Regions from separate parts of the Homo sapiens genome. Here region 1 is linked to region 2. A link means that fine-mapping ties the variant in region 2 to the expression of a gene that starts in the linked region. Tissue or cell type: stomach. Region 2 holds a variant in brackets; the other region holds the start of a gene. All regions are shown on one strand. Distances are from middle to middle.

The links. PIP is the estimated chance that this variant, and not a neighbour inherited with it, causes the effect.
Region 1: it holds the start of SLC5A9, and the variant in region 2 is fine-mapped to the expression of SLC5A9 in stomach (GTEx, PIP above 0.99). The same link has a PIP of 0.9 or more in ileum.

Annotation. Positions count from the first base shown.
Region 1 is chr1:48,217,718-48,225,880 of GRCh38, forward strand. SLC5A9 (solute carrier family 5 member 9) reads left to right here and starts at 4,999. Exons shown (of 14, transcript NM_001011547.3): 1 at 4,999-5,181; 2 at 7,007-7,078. The coding sequence starts at 5,020.
Region 2 is chr1:48,406,543-48,414,741 of GRCh38, forward strand. It overlaps SPATA6 (spermatogenesis associated 6), which reads right to left. Exons shown (of 13, transcript NM_019073.4): 4 at 6,568-6,609; 5 at 4,922-5,046. Among named protein-coding and RNA genes, the nearest start is that of SPATA6, 62 kb to the right of the region's middle. The variant T/C (reference allele first, on the strand shown) is at 3,455.

The DNA.
Region 1 (8,163 bases), 190 kb before region 2:
TGTGGTTAAATATATATAATGTATAACTTACCATTTTTCAGAATAGAATTCAGTAATATTAAGTACACTCACTGTGTTGAGCAATCATTACCACCATCTATCTCCATAACTCTTCTCATCTTCTCAAATTGAAACTTTGTACCCATTAAACAATAACTCCTAAGCCCTCCTCCACCAAACCCTGGCAGCCACTATTCTACCTTCTGTGTCTATGATTTTGACGACTCTAGGCACCCTATATGAATGGAACCATACAGCATTTGGGTCAAAGACAAATGCTATATGGTTCCATTCATATAGGGTAGATCAGCTCTCAACAAAGGGCATTCTTGAATGGCAGCCAAGAATGTTGTTTCTGTTGCTTAAGTCACCCAGTTTGTGGTCCTTATTATGACAGCCCTAGCTATAGGCTCTAAGGAAAAAAGGCAGCAAGACTGGGCATCAATGATCAAGGACTGTTGCTTATGAGAGGTGAGGGTTTCAATGTGAGCTTTTAATCTAGTAAACTCTCTATTTCTTTTCTTATGTATTTGTTTCTTGCCACTCAAAAATTCTCTTTCATTCAGCATAATGTCAAGGTTCATCTCTGTTGTAGTATGTGTCAGCCCTGAATTCCTTATAAGGCTGAATGATATTCCATTAAATGTTTTGACTACATTTTGTTTATCCCTTCATTTGTTGATGGACATTTGGGTTGTTTGCATCTTTTGGCCATTAAAATTAATGCTGTTATGAACATGGGTGTACAAATATTTCTTTGAATCTCTGTTTTCAATTCTTTTGGATATATGCCCAAAAGTGAAATTGCTAGGTCATAGTAACTCTATTTTTAATCTTTTGAGGAACTACCATACTGTTTTCCATGCAGGCTGCACCATCCTATATTTCTACCCGTGATGCACAAGGTTTCCACTGTCTCCACATCCTCACCAACACTTGTTATTTTCTGTTTTATTGATAATAGTCATCCAAATGGGTACAAAGTGATATTGTATCACAATGATAAATGATTAGTGGTGTTGAACATCTTTTCATATGCATTTTGGCCACCTGTATAACTTCTTTGGAGAATTGTCTATTCAACTCCTTTGCTTATTTTTGAGTAGGATTGTTAGTTTCATTTGTGTTGATTTACTGGAATTCTTCATATATTATAGGTACTAATCCCTTATCAGATGTATGATTTGTAAATATTTTCTCCCATTCCATCGGTTGCCTTTTCACTCTGTTGATAGTGTCCTTTGATGCTCAGAAGTTTTTAATTTTGACGAAGTTCAGTTTATTTATTTTTTCCTTTATTGCCTGTGATTTTGGCATCATCACCAAGAAATTATCTCCAAGTCCAACAACATGAAGATTTTACCCTATGTTTTCTTCTAAGAGCTTTATTTTCTTAGCTCTTGCATTTAAGTCTTCAATCCATCTTGAGTTAATTTTCATATATGGTGCAATGTAAGGGTCCAACTTCTTTCTTTGGCATAGGAATATTCCATTTTCTCAGCATCATTTGTTGAAAATGCTGTCATTTTTCCACTGAGTGGTCTTCACACTCTTGTCAAGAATCATTTGACTGTAACTGTGAGACTTTATTTCTGGGCTCTCTGTTCTATTCCATTGGTTTATATGATTGTCTTTATGCCACTACCACACTGCTTTCACTACTGTAGCTTTGTAGTGAGTTTTGAAATCAGGATGCATGAAACCTCCAACTTTGTTCTTCTTATGTGTAGTATGTCTTTGTGCCTCAGTGGCAACTTCCATTTATTGGCCTGTTATATTTCTATACTTTTTTATGCATGGCTGAAACCATTCCCCTTCCCATAAAGCTTTCTCAGTCTCTCCAACAAAGGACTTCATTGATCCTTCCTCTGGGCTATCCAGCTAAAAGGAAGAAAGGGGTGGACAAAAGTGACCTATTTTGTGTCAAAAGCACCTGTCTTTTGACTGTCTGTATTCCCCACAAGGCATGAACAACTAAAGACATGTGTGCTCCCTGAACAGGGTCAGGGATAGGACAGGCCTCACTTCATGTAGGACTGACAGCATGAGGACATCCTTCACTCTCGGAAGCTCTCTGAGAGAATATTCTGGATAATTGAGGCCTCAGCTTTGAATGCCAACACCTGCCTAAAATGTTTGACCATTTTGCATGAAACTCTTCCTGCCTGGGTTTCATACTCCATGCCTTCTAAATAGAAAACTCATAATGACCACAGTCACCTTTCCTTGATGACTCTGGGTCATCCGTATGTGTGTGAATCTTGGCTGCTACTCAAGAATGCCCTTTGTTGAGAGTTGATCTACCCAGTTTTATAGGTCTGTTTGCCCCGATTTAGTCATCTTTTACATTGTCTTTCCTGGTCTTTCCAGGTTTAATGACCTCTCATGCACCATCAACCCATCAGCTGCCATTCTCCTTGCTGTCCCTGTGTAGCTTTGCCCCCTCTCTTCTAATTTGTTGTGAGTTGGGATATGAATAACAAGACTCTGGCTAAAACAAAAATAAACAGTCTCTGAGTGGGGTCACAAGGCTCACTGATAAGTCAAAGATTTAGGTTTTGGGCATGAGTTTTAGAATGTCTATTCTGGCTGTTTCAAAGCCTTTTTTGCTCCCTTCCTCATGCTCTGTTGGTCTCTGGGCTGCTAATGTGCCTGGTTAGCTTACAGATAAGTCTTAGATGCATTCGAGGAGAGGCTACTATAAACCCAAACCTGCTAGTTTTGGATTAGGTAAGTGTGCAGGGTTTGGGGGTCAGCCTCATGTATCTGTGAGGTAGATGGGAAGACAGAGCATGCAGGCAGCAGAACACTGTCCTAGTCCATCCCTACTGCTACAGCAAAACACCTAAGACCAGGTAATTTATAAAGTACAGGAATTTATTTCTCACAATTCTGGAGGCTGGAAGTCCAAGATCAAAGCCCCAGCAGGTTTGGTGTCTGGTGAGGGCCCAGTCTATGCCTCCAAGACGGCACCTTGTGGCTGTGTCCTCACATGGCAGAAGGTAAAAAGGCAAAAGGGCCTGGCTAGTTCCCTTAGCCCTTTTATAAGGTACTGATCCCACCCATGAGGGAGAAGCCCTCACGGGCTAATCACTCCTAAAGGCCCTACCTCTTAGTACTGTTGCATTGGGGATTCAGTTTCAACATGAATTTTGGAAGCAACACAAGCATCCAAACTATAGCAAACCCCAAGGGCTGGGTGAGGGGGCTCCTTGTGGGGAGCATAGAAAGAAGTACAAGACTCAGCTGTCTTCTCCCTGCGACATTCCTTTTCCCATCTCTGGAAGAGTCATCCGGATCCAGAGCCCTCACTATGGTGTGCTCAGAGGCCTAAGCTCAGACCACTCCTTCCCTGCTCCCTGATTAACACCCAGAGATCTGCCAGCCTCATTCCCCACTGTCCCTGTATCCAGCTCACCCCCAGGGACCACTGGGCACCTGGTCCATCACATTTTCCTGATGTTTCTAATGCTGCCCCTCCTGCATCCCTGTTCGTCTGATAAACTTGCCTTTAAACGTGTATATGAAGGACTCTTCCTCTGGTATCTAATCCTAACAGGTGCTAGATCCCACAGAGCCCTGTCCAGCTGGGGACTATGCTGACCTCTCTCCCAGATCAATATCCCTCTCCTCGGGGCTCAGCCTGGCCAGTGCCTGATGTTCTGGGATAGGAGAACTGGGGAGAGAAGGCCTAGGACCCTGCCTCTCACTTTTCTTTCCACCAAAAGGGGAAAAAAGAGGATCTGGTCCTCACACCCAGCCTTGGGATACTTATAAGATGCTGGGGATAGGGTGTGGGACAGGGCCAGTGAGAGCTGGGGATGGGGTGTGGGACAGGGCCAGTGAGATCTGTTTTCCTGCTGCTCCAGTCTGGGCCCTACAGCAGATGCATGCAGAGTAATATTTGTAAGACTGAAATATTCCAAATGCAGCTACTTTGGAAGGACCATGTGAGCAGATATCTAAGTGCGTGGCATCTGGGCCCCTTGGCTAGATGGTGGTCGATGTTGGTTTCTTTGTGTTAACCCCAAGAACATTCAGTAGCTCAGGGTTTGCAGAGGTTCTCAGGAGCACATCTTAGCCTCATTGGTGGTGTGAGGCAGGCAGGGCACAGGTCACACTGATGAGGACACCCGGGCCCAGAGACATTTAGCAACCTGCCCAAGGGCATCTGTAGTTCAGTGAGAGGTGGAGCTGGGACTGAAATCTAGGCTGCCTGAGTCCCAGAGATGGTCTTCCCTGGACCCAGGGAGCACTGTATCTTTTTCAGGGAAGGCCTCCTGACCACAACCATTTCATCTGTCACAGTACAGAATAGGAAGTATGGGTCAGGCATCAGAAGATGTGAATTCTGGCTCTGCCTTTTCAGAGATGGCCCTGCCTAGTTCCTTGGAATAAATGATGATGTCTTCCCCAGCCTCAGTTTCCTACACTATATAAAAAGAGAAAGCAACATCTAGGTAGGTTGGAATGGGAGTACATGAGGTGGTGGCCACTTTGCTAGGGTCACAGTAGACTCCTCACCTCCTTCCCCTTGTCTTCCTCTCACTAGGTAAAAGACAATTGTATTGAACTCTTAAGAAAATTGGACTCCAGTCCCGGCTCCACCTTTACTTCCCTGGGCCTTGGTTTTCCCACCACACAGGAGTTTGAACACTTTGATTTCTGAAGTCCTTCCCACCTCTGGGGTTCCAATATTCTGCTCCTTTTCTCCTCTTCCTCCTCCCCCTCCTTTCTCCTCCTGCTCATCTGGGGTTAGGGAGATTGCGTGTATGTGTGTGCCTGTGTGTACACATGCATGTATGTGTGTGCACGTAGTGGCAGCAAGGAAGAGGAAGGAAGGAGTCCTGCAGGGGTTGGTGGTGGCAGTTGGGAGAAAAGGAGGCAGGACTGTATGTGCCAGCAGGGCTCAGAGTTTTCTCACCAACTAATGGTGCTTGGGGCAGTTTAATCATTAAAGGAAAGGAATGAAGCCAGGAGCGCCTCAAAGTCCAGCCTGCTGTTGACCAACACTAACAGATGAGCAAGGAGCTGGCAGCAATGGGGCCTGGAGCTTCAGGGGACGGGGTCAGGACTGAGACAGCTCCACACATAGCACTGGACTCCAGAGTTGGTCTGCACGCCTACGACATCAGCGTGGTGGTCATCTACTTTGTCTTCGTCATTGCTGTGGGGATCTGGGTAAGTGGGCCCTGAGGCTGGGGCTAGCAGGGGAGGTAGTAGTGGTCTCTCAGCTTGGGTGGGGCTGTGGAGCTGGGGCAGGGCTAGGCAGAAAGAAGCAGATCATAGAACCATGTGGCTGAGAAGGAAGGGCCTTCAGGAATCAGGCTCCTGATCTCCTCATTTTTAGAAGGGCAGAGAGGGGTGTGGCTGGTCTGAGGTCACACAGAGAGTCAGAGGCAGACCAGGCCCCCGACTCCTGACTCCTCTCTGAGCACCTGCTGCCTTTGGCCCCAACCATCCCTGGTTGCCCTGAGCCTCACTCCTTCCTTCTTCCCACCCCAAGGCCCCCAACTCTGAGAACTCTTGACCCCTGGCCCTACCTCAGTCCTGCATTCGTTAGCATCTTGGCTAAGGTGATTTCTAAATGAGAAGGGGCTCATGTGCTCTCAGGGAAGTGTGCCAGGCTTATTCCAAGGTTCCTCTGTTCTCCATTGTTCCCAGGAGCCTCAGTGCTAGAGGCAGGGGCCAGGCTTTGGGGTCAGGGAAACCTGAGTTCAGGTCCCAGCTGCAACAATGAGAGCCTCATGTCCCTGGGAACATATGAGGCCTATCAGCTTTCTCAGGTGAACAATGAGAATAAGGACTATGCTGTGATCATTCAGCAACAGGACATACTGCAGCACCTGGCACGGTGCCTGGTGCCCGATCAGCAGGCAATAAATGGCTGCTATTATCACCACGCATTCCACAGAAGTGTGAGCACCTTTAGACTCTGCTGTGATTCAAGTCCCAGATGGTCACTTCCTAGGCTGTGGCCAGGTCAGAGACCCTCTCTGAGCCTCAGTTTCCTCATCTATAAAGGGGGGTGAACAGTCCCTGCCTTCTAGTGCTGGTGTGAGGAAGAATTGGGCTAACAGATGGTCACTGGCTCCTGGAAGTGGCCAGCCGAGAAAAGCACCAACTCCTCTGTGACTTTGGACAAATTGCTTCCAATGTTGGGCCTCCATTTTCACATCTGTAAAATGGATCTGTTTTGCTCGTATGGCCTCCAAGAGGATCAGAGCTGACAAGGAAAATACAAGCAAAAGCTTAACAAGCACAAGGCCCCACACATATTTATCACTCCCTCGTGACTGATTATTTTCCCTTAGGGGAAAGTCAGAGAACTGTTGGCTTTTGCATCTGAATAGCTGCTTCAAGTTCATCCTTCCCTACCCACTGCCCTGCCCTCACCCTGTATCTCCAGAGAATATTCCAACAGGCTGCTAACTGACCACCTACTGGTGTAAGACAGGGAGGTCCTGGATGGGGCTCAGTGGCGTGATCTGATTTCAACCCAGGGCAAGGGAAACTCCAAAACAGTACCCATAACTCTACTCAGGGCTCAAAGTCTCACAGTCAAACTGCAGCCCTCTCTGTCCTCCCGCCTCCAGTGTGGGAGCTCAGCTGGGAGCAGGGAGGGGATCAGCTCAGAGAAAGGGTGAGCACTACACATCTAAGGAGGTGATAACAAATCATACTCTGAAAGCGCACTTTGGGGAGGGAAGGATAAGGGGACAAGAGTGCACAATCAATGGCTTCACACACGTGACATCCGTTACCTCCTTTGCTCTTCGCACTGGCCCTGGGAGATGAATGGCGAGGCTCACAGAGAAAGTGACTCTGCCAAGATACATCGCTTAGAAACTGTGGAACCAGCCTCAGGCAGCTCTCTTCTGCCTCAGTTTTCACCCTCTGTGTCCCCACAGTGCCTGCACCGAGGGGAAGGAAATCTGCGGGGAGGGGGCAGGGCAGAGGTTCAGAGAGTCTTGAGAAATCCTCATCTCATCTATTTCCTTTCCAGTCGTCCATCCGTGCAAGTCGAGGGACCATTGGCGGCTATTTCCTGGCCGGGAGGTCCATGAGCTGGTGGCCAGTGAGTTGACCCTTCTCAACCACCCCTAGTGCAGAGGCTCCCAACTTTCTTCCTCCCCACTATCCAAGCACTTGTCCCATCTTCTCACACCTGGACCAAGGCAAAGACCTCCCCGTTGTGTTTCCTGACTCTGGGCCCCTTCTCTCCCGCCCAAACCCGCCCCGCAACCTGAGTGGTCCTGCTAGCACGCACCTTGGACAAACATCCCCTGGCCCCTCCTAGGTGTGGCCCTACATCTGGCACTTGACTTGCAGTGATGAATCTGGAATGTCCCTGTCCTAGAGAAGCTCAGAGCTGAGTGGGGCAGATAGATTCATAAACATCATGCGCACTGCTGAGCCAGAGGGAAGCAGGGGGCACTCACCAGAGCTTGGAAGCCCCTGACCACCAGACAGTGGAGTCAGCTAGGGTTAGGAAAGATTTTGGGGGGAAGGTGACACATAAGCTTAATATTGAAGAACAGTTAAGTTAAGGGAATCACAGAGGTAAAATCCCCAGCAATCTCAGGGAATCGATCCCCAAAACTTTGTGAGCCACAGTTTCTCCCATCAAGCCACACCACATTTCTAAGTTAGGGGAATCACAGAGGTAAAATCCCCAAAAACCTCAGGGAATCGATCCCCAAACCTTCGTGAGCCACAATTTCTCCCATCAAGCCACCTCACATTTCTATTGGTCCTCAAAATTAACTTCCTCCTCCTGGAATGGGATGGAGGGAGGAAAGCCCTGCCTCAAAAATTACCAGTAGAGTCATCAGCCCCAGTGGTAGCTGAAGCAGTATACACACCCAGGCATGCAAAACTCACACACGGCATGTGTGCATACCCACTCCCACATGCACACTCTCACACACTGACACACAACACTCACACTCACATACAAAGGCACCCACACATGTTCATACATGCCCGCACTCATACATGCTTGCAAACTCATGCACACAATCATACTCCTATTCTCACACTCACACCTTCTCTCACGCACTCACACTCTCACTCTCATACACACTGTCACAATCACATACACTCACATGCAGTCTCACACTCATGCTCCTTTACATACTTACACGTGCACACTCAGACTCA
Region 2 (8,199 bases):
TAATTAAGAGACATTTATTAAGTACCTACTCCAGGCAAGGTACTGTGTTAAGAGTTAAATTCAAAGATGAGAAAGTCAAAGATTCTGTTTTTATGGAGTTCACAATCTAGAACAGGAGATATTATCATCATCTCTACTCCATCATCACCATCATGATATTCACAGCTATCATCATATCACTAACATTTATTGAGTGTTTACTTGCCAGACACTGCTATAACCATTTACAAGTTTACATTAATCTACCCAAAAACCCTATGATATCGCCATGTTATGGTGCTTTGCCAAAGGTTACTCAGTTCATCCATGAAAGTGCCAGAATTTAATCCCAAATGTTGTCTGAATCCTTGCCATAGTAAAGGCTTCAGGAGCATAGCCTGGGACTTACAGATGATTATGCAGAATCACAAGAATTCCCAGAAGGAGTGCGCTGTTTTCTGCCAGGGCAACAAACTACTGATTGAAGCATTTTTCCTATTCGTATTTAAATATAATGATAGATATGGCTAGATTTAGAACTGCCAATTTGGTGTTCAGTTTATATATGTTCTATGTATTTCTATTCTTTGATTCTTTCTAGGAGTCTCACCTGCATATGCATAGGTAAGTGGTCATCCAGTGAACCCATAGGAGTCCTACCCTCTGCTGATGACCTGTGTATAGATTAGGAAATCATTCAAAATTGCAGCCAGGACTCCAGTCTCCCTTGGCTTTCACTTTTGGCTGGGCTCTCACTGTCTCCCCTTGATATGCAGTTTCACAGTCAGCCAAGAATAGGTGGAGAGTTTATCTCAGCCCTTTATTGTTACCTTACTCCCAGGACCTTCCTGTCAACTTTCTGGCAGGTAATCCTTGCCCCAGTTAGAGCTCTGCCTAGCAAAGCTGTGGGGTTTCTTCATCTGCTCCAACTGAATCCACCACAGTTAGCTGGCAAAGCTGTGCTATTTGTGCCACTGCCCAAAACTGATTCTGTTCCCTCTGGTAGCAAAGCTGTTGATTTTTGCACTAGCTCCAGAATAGATAAACTTTAGTTCTCACTTACCAAACAGAATATAAGAGCATCCCAGGCAAGAATGTTAATAGTCTCGCCAGTTTTTCCCAAAGCTTTAGCAGTTTTTCAAGCATGAAAACTTCTTCGTCTTACCTTGTCAGTTTCCAGTATCCTGAATTCATTGTTTGTGAAAATTTTGTCTAGTTTTATAAGAACTCTCAATCTCTTCAAACTGCCATTCGTAGAAGTCCTAATTTTTATATATTTTTGTTTTAATAATCCATCATCTTCCAAATAAATGCAAAAGTAACTCAAATTAAATGATGAAAAGTAAATCCCTCTTAATGTTCCATACTCTTGAGTTTATATTACCACATTGGTATAATACAGAATTTTAAATTACATTAAAGAGACCATAATTTTAAAATGTGATTATTTGTTCATTGTATGTTTCCACACAGATCTTGAAATACTCTTTGAAGACTTTCATAGTACAGAAGCATGCTAATGGACACTGAAATATCCCCAAAGAAAGTATAGTTTTATAGACTTGCTACTTAGTCAACTTTTATACTTTCATAAAGATGAAGCTGCTTTTTCTTGGAATAGGGCATATCATAAATCTATAGGAGAAATTACTTAGTTAACTATATTTGTTCATATATCAACACTCTCCTTATTCGGACTACTCTAATATTTTATACAATTAGTTTTAAAGGTCTATCCAAATAATTTCAAGCTGGACAATTTTTGCTTTTCCTCTTTTGAAATGGCATGGGCTTCTCTCAGTTTCTCTGCATGGAAGACTTACTTTCAGCAATAAAATATTTTCAAATCATCCACAGAACTTGAAGGAAGTTATAGTAAAGGATAGAGAGTAAGCTGTCACTTGATGCAGCTTTTAATTTTAGGTGTATGAATATATATTTCCATTATATACATATTTTACAATTAATCTATCTAAACTCCTACTAACAGACATATCAATTATTTCAATTTTTCACTATTATGAACCAACAGGTAAACATTCTTAAGAAGGCTCTTAGTGTACCAGAGAGAATACATCTTTAAGATAGATATTGTATTAGTTCATTTTTAATGGTACTGATAAAGACATACCTGAGAATGGGCAATTTACAAAAGAAAGAGGTTTACTGGACTTACACTTCCACATGGTGGAATGCAGGGAGGAGCAAGTCACATCTTACATGGATGGTGGCAGACAAAGAGAGAGCTTGTGCAAAGAAATTCCCATTTTTTAAACCATCAGATCTCATGAGACCCATTCACTATCATGAGAACAGCGTGAGAAAGACCCATCCCCATGATTCAATCATCTCCCACCAGGTCCCTCCCATAGCACATGAGAATTATGGGAGCTGCAAGATGAGATCTGGGTAGGGACCCAGAACCACACCACATCATTCAGTCCCTGGACCCTCCCAAATCTCTTATCTTCACATTTCAAAACCAATCATGCCTTCCCAACAGTCCCCCAAAGTCTTAACTCATTTCAGCATTAACTCAAAAGTCCACAGTCCAAAGTTTCATCAAGACAAGGCAAGTGCCTTCCACTTTTGAGCCTGTAAAATCAAAAACAAGTTAGTACTTCCTAGATACAACGGGGGTATAGGCATTGAGTAAATACAACAACTCCAAATGGGAGAAATTGACCAAAACAAAGGGGCTACAGGCCCCATGCAAGTCCAAAATCCAGCAGGGCAATCAAATCTTAAAGCTCCAAAATGATCTCCTTTGACTCCATATCTCACATCCAGGTCACACTGATACAAGAGGTACGTTCCCATGGTCTTGGGCAGCTCCGCCCCTGTGGCTTTGCAGGGTATAGCCTCCCTAATGGCTGCCTTCACTGGTTGGCACTGAGTGTCTGCAGTTTTTTCCAGGCACATGGTGCAAGCTGTCAGTAGATCTACCATTCTGGGATCTGGAGAATGGTGGCCCTCTTCTCACAGCTCCACTAGGCAGTGCCCCAGTAGGGACTCTGTGTGGAGGCTCTGACCCCACATTTCCCTTCTAGGCTGCCCTAGCAGAGGTTCTCCATGAGCACCTCGCCCCTGCAGCAAACTTCTGCCTGGGCATCCAGGCGTTTCCACACATCTTCTGAAATCTAGGCAGAAGTTCCCAAACCTCAATTCTTGATTTCTGTGCACTTGCAGGCTCAACACCACATGGAAGCTGCCAAGGCTTGAGGCCTGCACCCTCTGAAGCCACGACCCAAGCTCTATGTTAGCCCCTTTCAGCCATGGCTGGAGTGGCTGAGACACAGCACCAAGTCCCTAGGCTGCACACAGCACAGGGACCCTGGGCCTAGCCCACAAAACCACCTTTTCCTCTTAGGCCTCAAGGCCTGTGATGGGAAGGGCTGCTACAAAGGTCTCTGACATGCCCTGGAGACATCTGCCCCACTGTCTTGGTGATTAACATTCAGCTCCTTGTTACTTA[T/C]GCAAATTTCTACAGCTGGCTTGAATTTCTACTCAGAAAATTGAATTTTCTTTTCTATCCCATTGTCAGGCTGCAAATTTTCCAAACTTTTATGTTCCATTTCCCTTTTGAAATTGAATGCCTTTAACAGCACCCAAGTCACCTCTTGAATGCTTTGCTGCTTAGAAATTTCTTCCACCAGATACCCTAAATCATCTCTCTCAAGTTCAAAGTTCCACAGATCTCTAGCACAGGGGCAAAATGCTGCCACTCTCTTTGCTAAAGCATAGCAAGAGTCACCCTTATTCCAGTTCCCAACAAATTTCTCATCTTCATCTGAAACAACCTCCGTCTGGACTTCATTGTCTATATCACTAACAGCATTATAGTCAAAGCCATTCAACAAGTCTCTAGGAAGTTCCAAACTTTCCCACATCTTCCTGCTTTCTGAGCCCTCCAAACTGTTCCTCCATCTGCCCATTACCCAGTTCCAAATTCACTTCCACATTCTCGGGTATCTTATAGCAATGCCACACTACCTCGGTACCAATGTACTGTATTAATCCATTGTCATATTGCTAGCAAGAAATATCTGAGACTGGGTAATTTATCAGGAAAGAGGTTTAACTGACTCACAGTTTTACATGGCTGGGAAGGCCTCAGGAAACTTACAATCACAGTGGAAGGGGAAGAGGCAAATCATCTTACATGGCAGCAGGCGAGAGAGAAAATGTGTGTGCAGCAGGAAATGTCAAACACTTATAAAACCATCAGATTTCGTGAGAACTCACTTGCTATCATGAGAACAGCACGGGGGAAACCACCCTCATGATCCAATCACCTCCCACCAGGTCCCACCCCTGACACACAAGGATTACAGGGATTACAATTCAAGATGAGATTTGGGTGGGGACACAGAGCCTAACCATATCACATGGTATAGCAGCATATGAAAGATTCTAAGTTTTTCACTTTTATCAGATTTATTAAATTTTCCCAATCTTATAGCTATATAAATGAAATCATATGGTTGTTTTAACTTGGATTTCTCTGAATACTAATGAGTTAGAGTATTTTTTCAAATGTTTATTATCATCCCTTAGAGAGAAAAATAAAGAGAAGAAAGAGACAGAGAGACAGAGATGGGATGGGGAGAGAAGGGGATGACAGAGATTTGAAGAATGTCAATTACAATTTAAAAAATTTTTAATGGCACTTTTTATTAAATTATTTTCATTTAGATTTCAATATGTTTAAGTAACCAATTTACTGTATTAGTCTGTTTTTACATTGCTGTAAATAAATATCTTTATATGTTTAAGTAACATATTGAAATCTAAAACAATTAAGATTTAAACTACAAAACAATTAAGTAAACTAAATTACACTTTGAATTTGTTCTTCACATTTAAGATGGCGAGCACTATGCGGTGGTTTCTGACAATGATTTTCCATCAAAAACTGATTCAGAAAATTGCAAGCACTTACTCGAAGGCCAGAAATCCTCCTCATGGTAACCTGGCGGTTTGAATCATGGTGTCCAGACATTTGGTTTGGACCCGGAAACATGAAATCTCGTGTATTTTCGTCATACGTAGACAGTGTTTCACCCACTACAAGAAAGATACCCTATGATTCAAATTATAATAAAATATTCTATTTAGAAACAAAATCATCAAGTATGATATATCTACTGCCTGATGCCTTATTGAAATACCTGTTTTGGGTCATGTTTATTTTCTATGAAAGGAAAATTAAAATAAAGATATGTTAAAAATATTAACACATTTTCCTTTTTCAGAAACATACTACAAAAATATGAAGTTGGTCCAACATTTATATGTCAGTTACCATCTCCACATTGGTTTTTGTTTGTTTGTTTTTGAGACAGACTTTTTTTTTTTTGAGATGGAGTTTCACTCTTTTTGCCCAGGCTGGAGTGCAATGGTGCCATCTCAGCTCACTGCAACCTCCACCCCACCCTGGGTTCAAGTGATTCTCCTCCTGCAGCCTCCTGAGTAGCTGGGACTACAGGCATGCGCCACCACACCTAGCTATATATTTTTAGTAGAGATGGGGTTTCAACATGGTGGCCAGGATGGTCTCAATCTCCTGACCTCATGATCTGCCCACCTTGGCCCCACAAAGTGCTGGGATTACAAGCATGAGCCACCGCGCCCAGCCAGCACTCTATTTTTCACATAAAATAAAAATTTGATTAATATAGATGTCATCTATAATCACAGAAATCAATATCAGAAATGAAACTAGCCTCTATATTTTAACTCTGCCTTCTCCAGGGAACTGTAACATTTACTACATAAGTAAGGTTTTATTCTCTTCCCTTCCCTAATAATATGCAACACACAAAAACAATGATAATTAACTACTTTATCAATAAAAATATATAGTTTTAGAAAAATCACAAAAACTTAAAAGTCAATTTTTATGACTGTCACAAAATATTTTAGAATGATAAGTTAGTTTCCATTTTCAATTATTACTATTCAATTTTAGAACAATGTATTAAAGTGACATTTATGACAATCTTTCTGTATATATTATTTTGGTCTACTGACATTTTACACATAGTAGATCAACAATAGAAATCTGACACTGTTCTCAACTTGGGAAGAGGAGGATAGATGAGATTTTTTTTTTGAGACGGAGTCTCGCTCTGTCACCCAGGCTGGAGTGCAATGGCATGATCTTGGCTCACTGCAACCTCTGCCTCCCGGGTTCAAGTGATTCTTCTGTCTCAGCCTCCCGAGTAGTTGGGATTACAGATGCCCACCACCACACCTGGATAATTTTTCTATTTTTAGTAGAGACGGGGTTTCACCATGTTGGTCAGGCTAGTCTTGAACTCCTGACCTCAGGTGATCCGCCTGCCTCAGCCTCCCAAAGTGCTGGGATTGCAGGCATGAGCCACTATGCCCGGCCTGAAAAGATGAGATTTTGAAGTAAAAAAAAATGTCACTCACATGAGTTCCCAAGTCAATTTACTTTATCAGTATATAATACACTATATTATATCCTTATCAAATAATATAGTATAATCAATATATAATATATTATATATTACATCAATTTATGATATCTTATATTGTATATATTACATCAATATATATTACCTGGTGGAACTAGCTGTATCAACTCGAACACTGCTGTATCATCTAAAAGTTTAAAGAAAAATTTCCTTAAATAAACAAATTAATAACAAAAAAATTACTTAATTTACCATGGGAGTGTCTAAAAGCCAAAGTAATCACTAGGTAGACTACATATATGTTTATATATTAGTATATAATGTACACTTCTTTTTTTTTTTTTGAGACAGGGTCTCACTCTGTCGCCAGGCTGGAGTGCAGTGGCGCAATCTTGGCTCACTGCAACCTCCGCCTCCCGGATTCGAGCAATTCCCCTGCCTCAGCCTCCCGAGTAGCTGGGACTACAGGTATGCGCCACCACGCCCGGATACTTTTTTTTTTTTTTTTTTTTGCATTTTAGTAGAAACGAGGTTTCACCATGTTGGCCAGGATGGTCTCGATCTCCTGACCTTGTGATCCACCCACCTCGGCCTTCCAAAGTGCTGGGATTACAGGTGTGAGCCACCGTGCCCAGCCTAATGTATACTTTTATAAATATAAGTTATGTCTATTTCTTAAGCAGAGTGGTGAGTACAGTGAGATACATTGACTCTTGAACAACTTGAGCGTTAGGGGCACCAACACCTGTGCCATCAAAAATCCATGTATAATTTTTGACTTCCCAGAATCTTAACTTGATAGCCTATTGTTGACCAGAAGCATTACTAGGAACATAGTTGATTAGCATATATTTTATGCTATATGTATTACATACTGTATTCTTACAATAAAGTAAGCTAGAGAAAAGAAAATGTTATTAAGAAAATCCTAAGGATGAGAAAACACATTTATGGTACTGTATTTATTTATACCATAAGTTTATATTGTCTGCTTACAAGATAAATTGTCTGTTTGAAACGGAATGCAACCACAGCTGTAGACCTCTATGTATGGTACATATCAAGCAATTCAACTTTTTCTTGTAATGTCATGAGTTTTCTCTGCTTCTTGAGAGCACTTCCAGCATGACTAGTGAAACTTTGTGTGGGTCGCCTGAACTGATGAATTGCTGGAAGCTCAGTGCGGACAAGTGTGAGAGATTAAAACTCCAGAGAAATCCAATCATTGGGCTCTCAAGTTTTTGTTAAGTTTTACTTCCAGGAGTTCTACTAGGTTCTCACTATAAATACTGGAGAAAAATCCCCTCATATTTCCACCAGCAGGGAGAAGAGAAAAGAAACCATTTTGAAGTACGTCAGAGCATTCCATTCTTAACAAAACCTGACCTCAGGAGAAATTCTTTTTTCTACAGCCTCATCTACTGGGCTCATATCAGAGCCTAACCTATCTGAGAGAAAGAAAATACTTAACTCCAGCCAGCTCTGAACTTGACTTGTAGGAAGAAAATAACCCAACTCCAGCTCCCTCTAGCCTTCTATGTGAGAGAAGGGAAATACCCAACTACAGCCATATCTAGCATTCCACACAGGGGAAGGGAAAAACTCACTGCACCTCCCTCCAGCCATCCTGTCCAAACTAAGAGGGGAAAATCAGAAGCACCGGTGAAGGTCACAATTTAGGGGCATAGGCTCACCAAAAGACTGCAACCTGATCATAGGACTGTAGAACACCTCCCTCTCCTCACACCTTACATTACTAAAAGCTCTTTACCACAGT